Regions from separate parts of the Homo sapiens genome. Here region 1 is linked to region 2. The links come from fine-mapping of genetic effects on gene expression. A gene starts in region 2. The other region holds a variant in brackets. All regions are shown on one strand. Distances are between the middles of the regions. Region 1 overlaps SPNS2 (SPNS lysolipid transporter 2, sphingosine-1-phosphate). Region 2 holds the start of SPNS2 (SPNS lysolipid transporter 2, sphingosine-1-phosphate).

What was found. PIP is the estimated chance that this variant, and not a neighbour inherited with it, causes the effect.
Region 1: its variant is the best candidate, but not a certain one, in a credible set for the expression of SPNS2 in whole blood (INTERVAL, PIP 0.64).

What each region holds. Positions count from the first base shown.
Region 1 is chr17:4,517,714-4,522,091 of GRCh38, forward strand. The region is part of intron 2 of SPNS2 (SPNS lysolipid transporter 2, sphingosine-1-phosphate); the gene reads left to right. Among named protein-coding and RNA genes, the nearest start is that of SPNS2, 21 kb to the left of the region's middle. The variant G/T (reference allele first, on the strand shown) is at 2,533.
Region 2 is chr17:4,496,636-4,501,013 of GRCh38, forward strand. SPNS2 (SPNS lysolipid transporter 2, sphingosine-1-phosphate) reads left to right here and starts at 2,246. Exons shown (of 13, transcript NM_001124758.3): 1 at 2,246-2,782. The coding sequence starts at 2,413. SPNS2-AS1 (SPNS2 antisense RNA 1) reads right to left here and starts at 2,100. Exons shown (of 3, transcript XR_001752763.2): 1 at 1,516-2,100; 2 at 907-1,080. RefSeq lists silencers at 2,039-2,098, 2,109-2,258, 2,319-2,368 and enhancers at 2,410-3,045, 3,046-3,680.

The sequences.
Region 1 (4,378 bases), 21 kb after region 2:
CTGACCCTGAAGATGGGAAAACAGATTCGTCACAAAGGGACTTTAAAATTAGGTGTGTTTAATATTCAAAGCTCTAAAGGAAAGGATAGGACTTGTAAGACAAGAACAGAACATTATGAAAAGAGAACCGGAAAATGTTTAAAAGACTAATATTCGAAAATACCAGAAGTGAAAAATATGTATTAAAATAAAAAATGGAATAATTAGGTGAGTTAATGAGTAGACTACACCTAGTTGAAAAGAAAAGTGAATTAGAAGCTAGATCTGAGGAAATCAGCGTCAATGCAACACAGGGAAGGGTGAGGGAGAACGAAGGCTGTTTGTGGCACTGCCTGACTCGAGTGGCCTGTGGCCCATTGGCCATGGGTTGGCGTATGGGGAGAACAGAAGGAGAAGAGGCTGGACAGTGGGCAGGGTCTGAGTGTGAAAGGCTTGAAGGCCAAGATAAGGCATGTAGGTTTTGTCTTGGGGCAGTAGGGAGCCAGAGAAGGTTTTGGAACAGGGCAGTCCGTGTAAAATGTGTGTCTCGGGCCGGGCGCGGTGGCTCACGCCTGTAATCCCAGCACTTTGGGAGGCTGAGGCGGGTGGATCACGAGGTCAGGAGATCGAGACCATCCTGGCTAACATGGTGAAACCCCGTCTCTGCTAAAAATACAAAAAATTAGCCGGGTGTGGTGGCGGGTGCCTGTAATCCCGCTACTCGGGAGACTGAGGCAGGGGAATGGCATGAACCCAGGAGGCGGAGCTTGCAGTGAGCCGAGATCGCGCCACTGCACTCCAGCCTGGGCGACAGAGCGAGACTCCGTCTCAAAAACAAAACAAAAACAAACAAACAAAAAAGATGTGTGTCTCAGGATATTCATTCTGGGACCAAGTGTGGGAAGGGGCAGCAGAGGAAGCTGAAGGCTACTCAGGGCCGGGGTTTGTAGGCTCACGAGGAAGTGCCAGGATGGGGATGGGGGAACGGAGGGAGAGTGGGGACAGAGGAAGAGCCAGCTCAAACCGAAACCAGACAGTGCCTCTGTTTTGGGGGTAAGTCTCCTTCTGCCTGTTCTCCCCTCCCGTCTTTGGCCAGCCCAGCGACTCCTGCTTCAGCAGACTTGGGTTCTGAAGGCACAGCCGGGCAGCCCCTGCGGCTGTTCCCCAAAGCCCTCCTTTTCAAGGAGTGGCCCCAAAACCTCATTCACCCTGAGGCCTGAGAGCCCAACACAAGGTTTACATCCTGAGTAGGGGATCACAGAGCAGGTGTTCCCGTCCTTCCACCGGGAAGTCTGAGCGTGGTGAGCTTTCAGGCGCTGATGGGGCCATCTGTCCTGAGCATTCTCCGTCAGCTTGGCCAGCCCAGGCCGTCCCTTGGATGGCAGAGCCTGGCCCCCGCCCCACCCATGCCTGCCTGAGCACCCTCCCTGCCCACAGGATGTGGAGGATGGTAGGTCTTCTCCAAATAACAGATCAGCCATGTAAAAATAGCCGTGGCTCAGCCCAGGCCGAAGCAAGGGCTGAATGCAGGCTCCAAGGCCACAGGGCGGGGGCTCAGGGCTCCCTCAAGCTCAGACTTGCCCTTTCCTGCTCCAAAACTGCTTTCTGGGGTCATACAGGCCATGTGTGCCATGGGGATGGCTCCGCTCACCATGGACAGGGGTCCTGGGGCTGCCCACCAGGACACCGAGGGCCCGTGGGGGTTCTGAGCTCTGGGCTGCCGTGAGAGGTGGACAGCACTGGCTTTCTGACGGCCTCCTGCCAGCCTGGCGAGGAGGAGGGAGTGAGGCCCTGGCCCAAGACCCCGAGGCAGGCGGGCTGGTCTGACCCCTCCCTCCCTGCTGTCACGGCCCTGCCCGCTCGGCCCTGGCTCCCTGCCCTGCCTCTCCATTGTCCTAGACCTGTGGGCTCAGCACACCCTCCACAGGATGTCCCTGCGGGAACTGCTGGGAAAGCCGCCCCTACCAAAACCAGGGGTGGGGCTGCCAGTCTGCCCAGAAAGCTCTCCTCAAACAAACAAAGACCACGGGATTGCGGGGTGGTGGGCAGGGGAAGCTTCTAGCTTGGAGGCCCAGCCCAGGCTGGTCTTTATTCTCAGCAGAGTTGCCTGCTGGCCTCTGTGTCCCCATCGGACACAGTCCACATGGGCAAGGCTTCGCCTATCCTGTCCCTTCTGCCAGGAACATTCTCTCAGCCCCCTCCCCGTCCCTACCCTGATTGTGTTCAGGCCCCTCCATGGCCTGTGACCTCCAGGGGGCCAGGCGGGGTCCTCCCTCCTGTCTGTCCTGAGCAGAGAGAGGGCAGCAGTGATGGATCCCACCTCCCTCCTGACCCTGGACTGCCATGTCCCAAGGGAAGACACTGAGGGGCAGGCTGGTCCAGACTGTGCCTTCCTAATTTGGTCTGTCATCTCGGGCAACTTCCTCCACCTCTTGGGGCCTCAGTGACCTCAGCTGTTAGATAGGGATGGACGTGGGGAGGATCAGGTGAGCTAAGGGCACGTAGGTGCTTGGGCAAGTTCATCAGGCTGGGGCCGGTGGGTGGGGACGGGGC[G/T]TGCCAGCTTCTGCCAGGAGTCCACCTGCAGTCCTGGGGACTTCTGCCCATCTAAGTGAGGAGCCAGAAACCAGGGAGGGGTTGAAAGAGCTAAGAAGGGCCCGTGCTTCCTGCTCCACTGTGGGCAAGAGGAGAGAATGGAGCATGATGGCCGGGGTCTGGCGAAGGTCTGGGTCACGTCCCTCCAGTCCCTCGTCACCCCCCCGGGAGGGGGCTTTTTCAAGGATCCTACCATGGTGTTGGGGGGCGGGGTGGAGAGAGCGCGCTGTGGTTCTCTGCCGCCTTCTAAACACCAAACCCTGTCCTGGTCTTTAGCCCAGTCCTCCCTCCACAGCCTCATCTCTCGCTGCTTCCTCTTGAGCATCCTCAGGCCATGGCCTGACCTGTCTCCTTGCTGTCCTCAGCAGGCCCTGAACTTTCCCTGACCTTGGGAACATCAGCTGGGACCTTCCCCCTTCCCAGCATGGCAGTCTGGGGAGTGATTTAGAGCAAGGACTCTGGAGTCTGCCAAACTGGGATTTAAATTCTGGCTCAGCCGCACACTCGCTGTGTGACATCACTTCTTTTGGCCTCCATTGTCTCCTCTGTAAAATGAAGAGAACAGAATCAAAAGAGATCATCTGTGCATATGTCAAGGCTGCATGCTGGGCCTTGCCTATATATCCATAAATAATAACTGCAGTTATCATGAACACTAAGCATCATGCCTCGTGAACCATTATACAATATTGCTGATCTGAAGTTTATATTTCAGCGTATATTCTTGATGTTAAGTATTATCTTAGCGGTAAACTCCTATGCATGCTTCAGTGCCCAGCTTTGTCACCACCGCCTCCGGGAAGCCTCTCTTCATTATCCTGGCAGGATCTGGAGCTCCTTGGTGGTTCCCCAACATAGGTTGTCCTTTAAACAGAGCAACCTATGAACAAGATCTGCCCCTGGCCAGACAGGGGGAAACTTCTCTTCTGATTCCTTCTGTCCACTTGCCACCTAGCACAGACAGGCACAGGGAGAACAATTCCTCCTCCTCCCCCAACATGTGTCAGTCCTGATGCAACTGGAAATCTCCCTCCTGCCACATTCTGATCTGATCTCAGGCAGGTCCTTGGAGGCAGGCCCAGCAGGAAAAATTCTTTTTCTAAATGTGAGGAAATAATTTCTGCCTTGACTAATTTAAACAAGGGCCCAGTGTTGACCAAGGCCGGCCTGCTCTGGGCAGGGTGTGGCATTAAGCACCTTGCACGTGCTATCCAGCACCCAGACCCACCCTGGAGAGCTGCTATTTTTATCTTCATTTTACAGATGAGGATGCTGGCATGTTGGCGCTGGCTCAGGCCAGCTCATGAGAGTCAATTGTTAACATTTCAGGAATGGTGTGTGAGCTAGTCGTAAAATACAACCATTGTTAAAAACTAAATGATATCGGCTTACAATTAAATAATTAGAAACAAGGTAATAACTACTCAAAAGTCCTCACTTCCTAATTATTTTGCTGTGTTTCAGCGTTATCTGTGGTCCTATGGTGAGTGGCGTCTGTTCTATTTGTGTGGTAGAAACACTGGACAATGGCGTGTCCCCGCACATCCCTTTCCAACGCCCATCAGTGACACGACGTGGGTAGCTTGAACTCAGCCAGGGCGGAGTGTTTACACCACAGAAATGGGCAAACACGGCCGGGCACGGTGGCTCACCCCTGTAATCCCAGCACTTTGGGAGGCCGAGGCAGGAGGATCACCTGAGATCAGGTGTTTGAGACCAGCCTGGCCAACATGGCAAAACCTTGTCTCTACTAAACATTCAAAAATTAGCCGGGCGTGGTGGCAGATGCCTATAATCCCAGCTACTT
Region 2 (4,378 bases):
AGATGGAGGAAAGAACCCTACCAGTCCTCTGTCTGACAGCCCCAGGTTACTGCCAGAGCTTCTCAGAAGGCTGTAGGGATTTGTCCTGGGCTGCACAACCAGAAAGGGCTTCTTGTCCTCCCTGTCCCTCTGCCCTTGGTGGCCCCTTATCCCACACAAGGACTTATTCTAGAGGCTGCCTTTGAGTTGAAACCCCAGTGAAACACAGTGGGAAGGGCTGGCTTGCTTGGTGGCAGCTCAGAGGTCCCCCAGGTTTGAAAGGCTCATGCCACCCTCTTCCCCTGCTCTGGGACCTTCCCAGTGGTGAAAAGGGAAGGCAGCAGAAAGAGAATGCTCCCCTTTCTGTCAAGGCCGAAAGTGTCCACCTGGACAGGACTGTGGCCAAAGGGATGAGGAGTTTTGGGGCACGGGAAGGGGACCCTGGGCTTGGGTCTAGAGTTGTGGTTGTGCCTCCTTCACCACTAGACACAGTTCCACAGCTGGGCAGCCTCCCACAGCTGGACTCTGTCCACCTGCTGGCACCATCACACACTTACGAGATCATTGCTGGGGCCGGGTTCTAGCCCCACGGAGCTCCTAGCTCTCTGTCCTTGTTTGTTAATCACCCGTCATGCCAGGCCACCATGGGGAACTCCCCCCATCCGCCTTTGCAGGCCTGAGCTCAGCGAGCTGGAAAGAGGCAGCAGGCAACTTTGAGAATGAAATCTGTTTTCCTAACCCTCCCGTCACAGTCATTCATACCCAGCACGCTGAAGCATATTTTTAGTCACTTTGCAGAATTTAAAATACACCTCGAAGGCGCCAAGAAACACCAGCTTGGGGATTAACTCTGCTCACAAGAGACAGTGGAGGGGGGCGGGGGGGGTGCCTCGTGCTGTGTCACCCGTTGGCTATGCCATGACTCACTGTGGCCGAAAGCTTCACCAGATGCACCTGCCTGTGGACGTGGGGTCCGGAAAAGCCTCTAGCGGGGAGTGAGCTCCAGCCCTCGGGGATGATGCCAGAGCCTGGGGCAGCTCCAGCCCTGCCACAGCTTCACTGCCTGTTCGTAATGGGTCACGTCCGTGCCCTGGGACTTGTCTGTGAAACACAGGGAATGATTAACTGGTTTCCGAGGGTTTGTCCAGTTCTAACATTCTGTCCTCTGCACTTTATACAGGATTTTAATTTCGATTTTAATTCCCCAAACAGGTGAATGGGGGAGGGAAGGGGGAGATCGTCACAGAGCCACAGCACCTCTAAGGAGGGGTGAAACCGTGATGGGATGTCAGGAACACAGAAGCACCCCAACCACTCTCCATAGGAGGCAGACCCCCGCCCCGTCCCACCAAGGGGAGGTGACCACCCGTGGATTTCCAGACTGAATCCCATCCTGCCATCTGCCCCCAGATACAGAAATGGAGGCCCAGAGAGTGGGTGTCATGTTCAGGATCATGCCACACACCAGGGCAGAGCTGAGCTAGGACCCAGCCTCCTGTCTGCCACTGGGGGCTTTGTACCCTCTCTAGCACATACCTGGAAGTCTGAAGCTTGGAGATGTGGTCCCTCAGGAGGGAAAGCCCCTTCTGAATATCCTGTTTCTGTTGGGCCCCAATCACAGCCCTTGCTCTCCCCGCCAGGGGCTGCGGGCCACTCTGTGGGGCAAGGGTAGGGTCCGGGTGCCCACACAGGAATGGGCCCGGGGTAGGTTGGGGGCTGGATCTGGGTTGCCCTGGGGAGGTGGGAGACACAGCCCACCATGACTGGTGGAGGTCTAGGTTCTGGGCCCTCCCTGAACTGGTTAAATCCGGGCGTGTGAGTATCGGAGGAGCCACCGGCTCTCCAACTGGCGCCCCTGACTTTAGCCATCTGAGACTCCTCTCTCCAGTTCTCCCAGATACGCTAGGCTCAAGCCCTCAGCCCGGCTCCCAGAGCCTCCGCCGGGAGTCCACGCCCGAGGCAGGGGTTGGGTGAAGGGTACTGAGTAGGTGCTGGGAGCCCCGTCACCAGCACCCTGCTCCCAGCTCCGTAGCCAGAGCAAACCCTCTCCCGCTCCCCGCGGGCGTTCGCGGCCGGTCGGCCCCGGCGTGACTGCGCCCCCATTGGCAGGAGGGGCTCTGCCGCCCGGGCCCCCAGTCCCCGGGCCCCCCACCCCCAGGGCAGCACGTGCGGGGCGGGGCTGTGGCCCGAGCCCGGAGCTGATTGGGCGCGGGCCTGGTGGGCGGGGCCGGGCCGCAGCTGTCAGAGCCGCGGCGGCGAACGAGGCGCAGCGAGCTGAGCGGTGGCAGCGCCGCAGCCGGGGCCGGAGCGCAGGAGCCGACGGGGCCCGACCAGGATGGTGCAGTGGCGGCTCCGCGGCGCACGCACGCGCTGAGCGGGCCCAGCCTGGGCCCCGCGCCCCCCGCGCCCCCCGCCGCCCCGATCCGGGCCGGCATGATGTGCCTGGAATGCGCCTCGGCGGCGGCGGGCGGCGCGGAGGAGGAGGAGGCGGACGCGGAGCGGCGGCGCCGGCGCCGGGGGGCGCAGCGAGGGGCTGGCGGTAGCGGTTGCTGCGGGGCGCGGGGCGCGGGCGGCGCTGGAGTCTCGGCCGCGGGCGATGAGGTGCAGACGCTGTCGGGCAGCGTAAGGCGGGCCCCGACCGGACCCCCCGGCACCCCCGGCACCCCCGGCTGCGCAGCTACTGCAAAGGGCCCCGGCGCTCAGCAGCCCAAACCGGCCAGCTTGGGCCGCGGGCGGGGGGCAGCCGCCGCCATCCTCAGCTTGGGCAACGTGCTCAACTACCTGGACAGGTACACCGTGGCAGGTGAGCGAGTGCCCCACCCAGCCCGAGGACCAAGACCCCACCCCATCCCACCACCCGCCTCGAGGGAGGTACCCCAGAGAGCTTTTGGTCTCAGGCCTGCTATCTCCAGGCCCTACGTGAGGTCCCTACGGACCCTCTGCTCAGGCACAACTGGGCAAGGGATGCCTCCGTGCACCACGGGTACAATCCAGCTCCCCGCTCATACACACCCGGGGCCAAGGGATAGAGGAGTCCCCACCCCTGGAGCAGCCCGCGCGTCCTCTCCAGCCCTTGACGGCCCATCCGTTGTCCTCCTCTCCAAGAGTCTCCTCTGCGTCTCTCTGTCTCCTTGTCTCTGCGCCCCCTCCGACCCCAGCTGCCGGTTCCCGGGCCTCCTTCCCTTCCCTTCCCCCAGCCCAGGTCGTCTGTCCGTCCATGGCCCGTCAGTTCCTTCCTTTCTCCGCCGCCTCCACCCCCCTGCGTGCGTGCGGCGAGTGCGCGCGCCCCTTGCGGGTGTGCGCTAGGGAGACCGGGTGTGTGTGCGCGTGGCGGCGCGGTTGTGTGTGAGCGCGTGGCTGACAAAGGCTCCGGGCTGCGGGGAGCGGAGGGAGGGGCGGGGCGGGTCCGCGGCGCCTGGGGACCCAGGCTGCGGTTTGCAGCTGGCCCTGTACAGAGGCCTGGAGACGCCTCCCCCTGCTCTATGGTGCTTGGGGTGTAGGGTAGGGCGCAGGCCTCTGGAGCTAGAGACGTGGAGCCTCATCCTCAGGGAGCATCTCTGGGAATCAGCCTTGGGGACGGGATTGGGATCGATAGAACAACTGGGTTCTAGCCCCAGCTTTGCTCCTAATGTGCTTGGTGTGTGACCTTGGGCCAGTCTCAGCGTGTGTTTAGGTCTGTTTGCCCGTTTGTGAGTTGATTGATCATTGGGCCTTTGGGGGACGCACGTGGTTCTGGAATTGCCTTCTGCTGGCTCCCTTCCCCAGCAATTAGGGGTGGGTCTAGGGGTAAGAATTTGCCCTAGACTGAGCTGCTACTGGTTGGGAATGGTGGAGCTTTGAGAGGGAAGGACTTTGGCCAGACTGGCATAGGAAGGGGCTCCCTGCAGGAGGAGAGCAGTACTGTGTGCCTGGCATGCTGGCCCAGAACCTGCGTAACTATAGCTTAGTAAAATCTGGAGCTATCAAACACACACACAACAGAGAGAGAGAGGAGATAGGAGAGAGGGAAGGATTTATTTTTGGACAGACTCTAAAGAGAACTTTGCGGCAATTGAGGGAAGAGAGCCCGGGCATAAACCACATGCCACCTGGTGCCTTCTCTGGGCCTCAGTCTCCCCGTCTGTTGAATGGAGTTTTGTGTCAAATGGAAGGGAAGAATTCTGATGGGAGGGCAGAGGCTTCCCCCTCCCCCCATTCCTGCTTTCAACCCCCCTTGGCTCTCTGTCCTTCCGCTGGAGGAAATTGGAAGTGGGTACCAGTGGCATCAGTTTCTGGGTCGAGCTATCCCAAAGAGAAACTTACTTTGGTCTAGAGAGCAGGAATATTGAGCACCTCCCAAAAACGCCAGCCGCTGTCACGCATGCACCATGCTGCCGGGGACCTGGGAGCATAAGCGCCA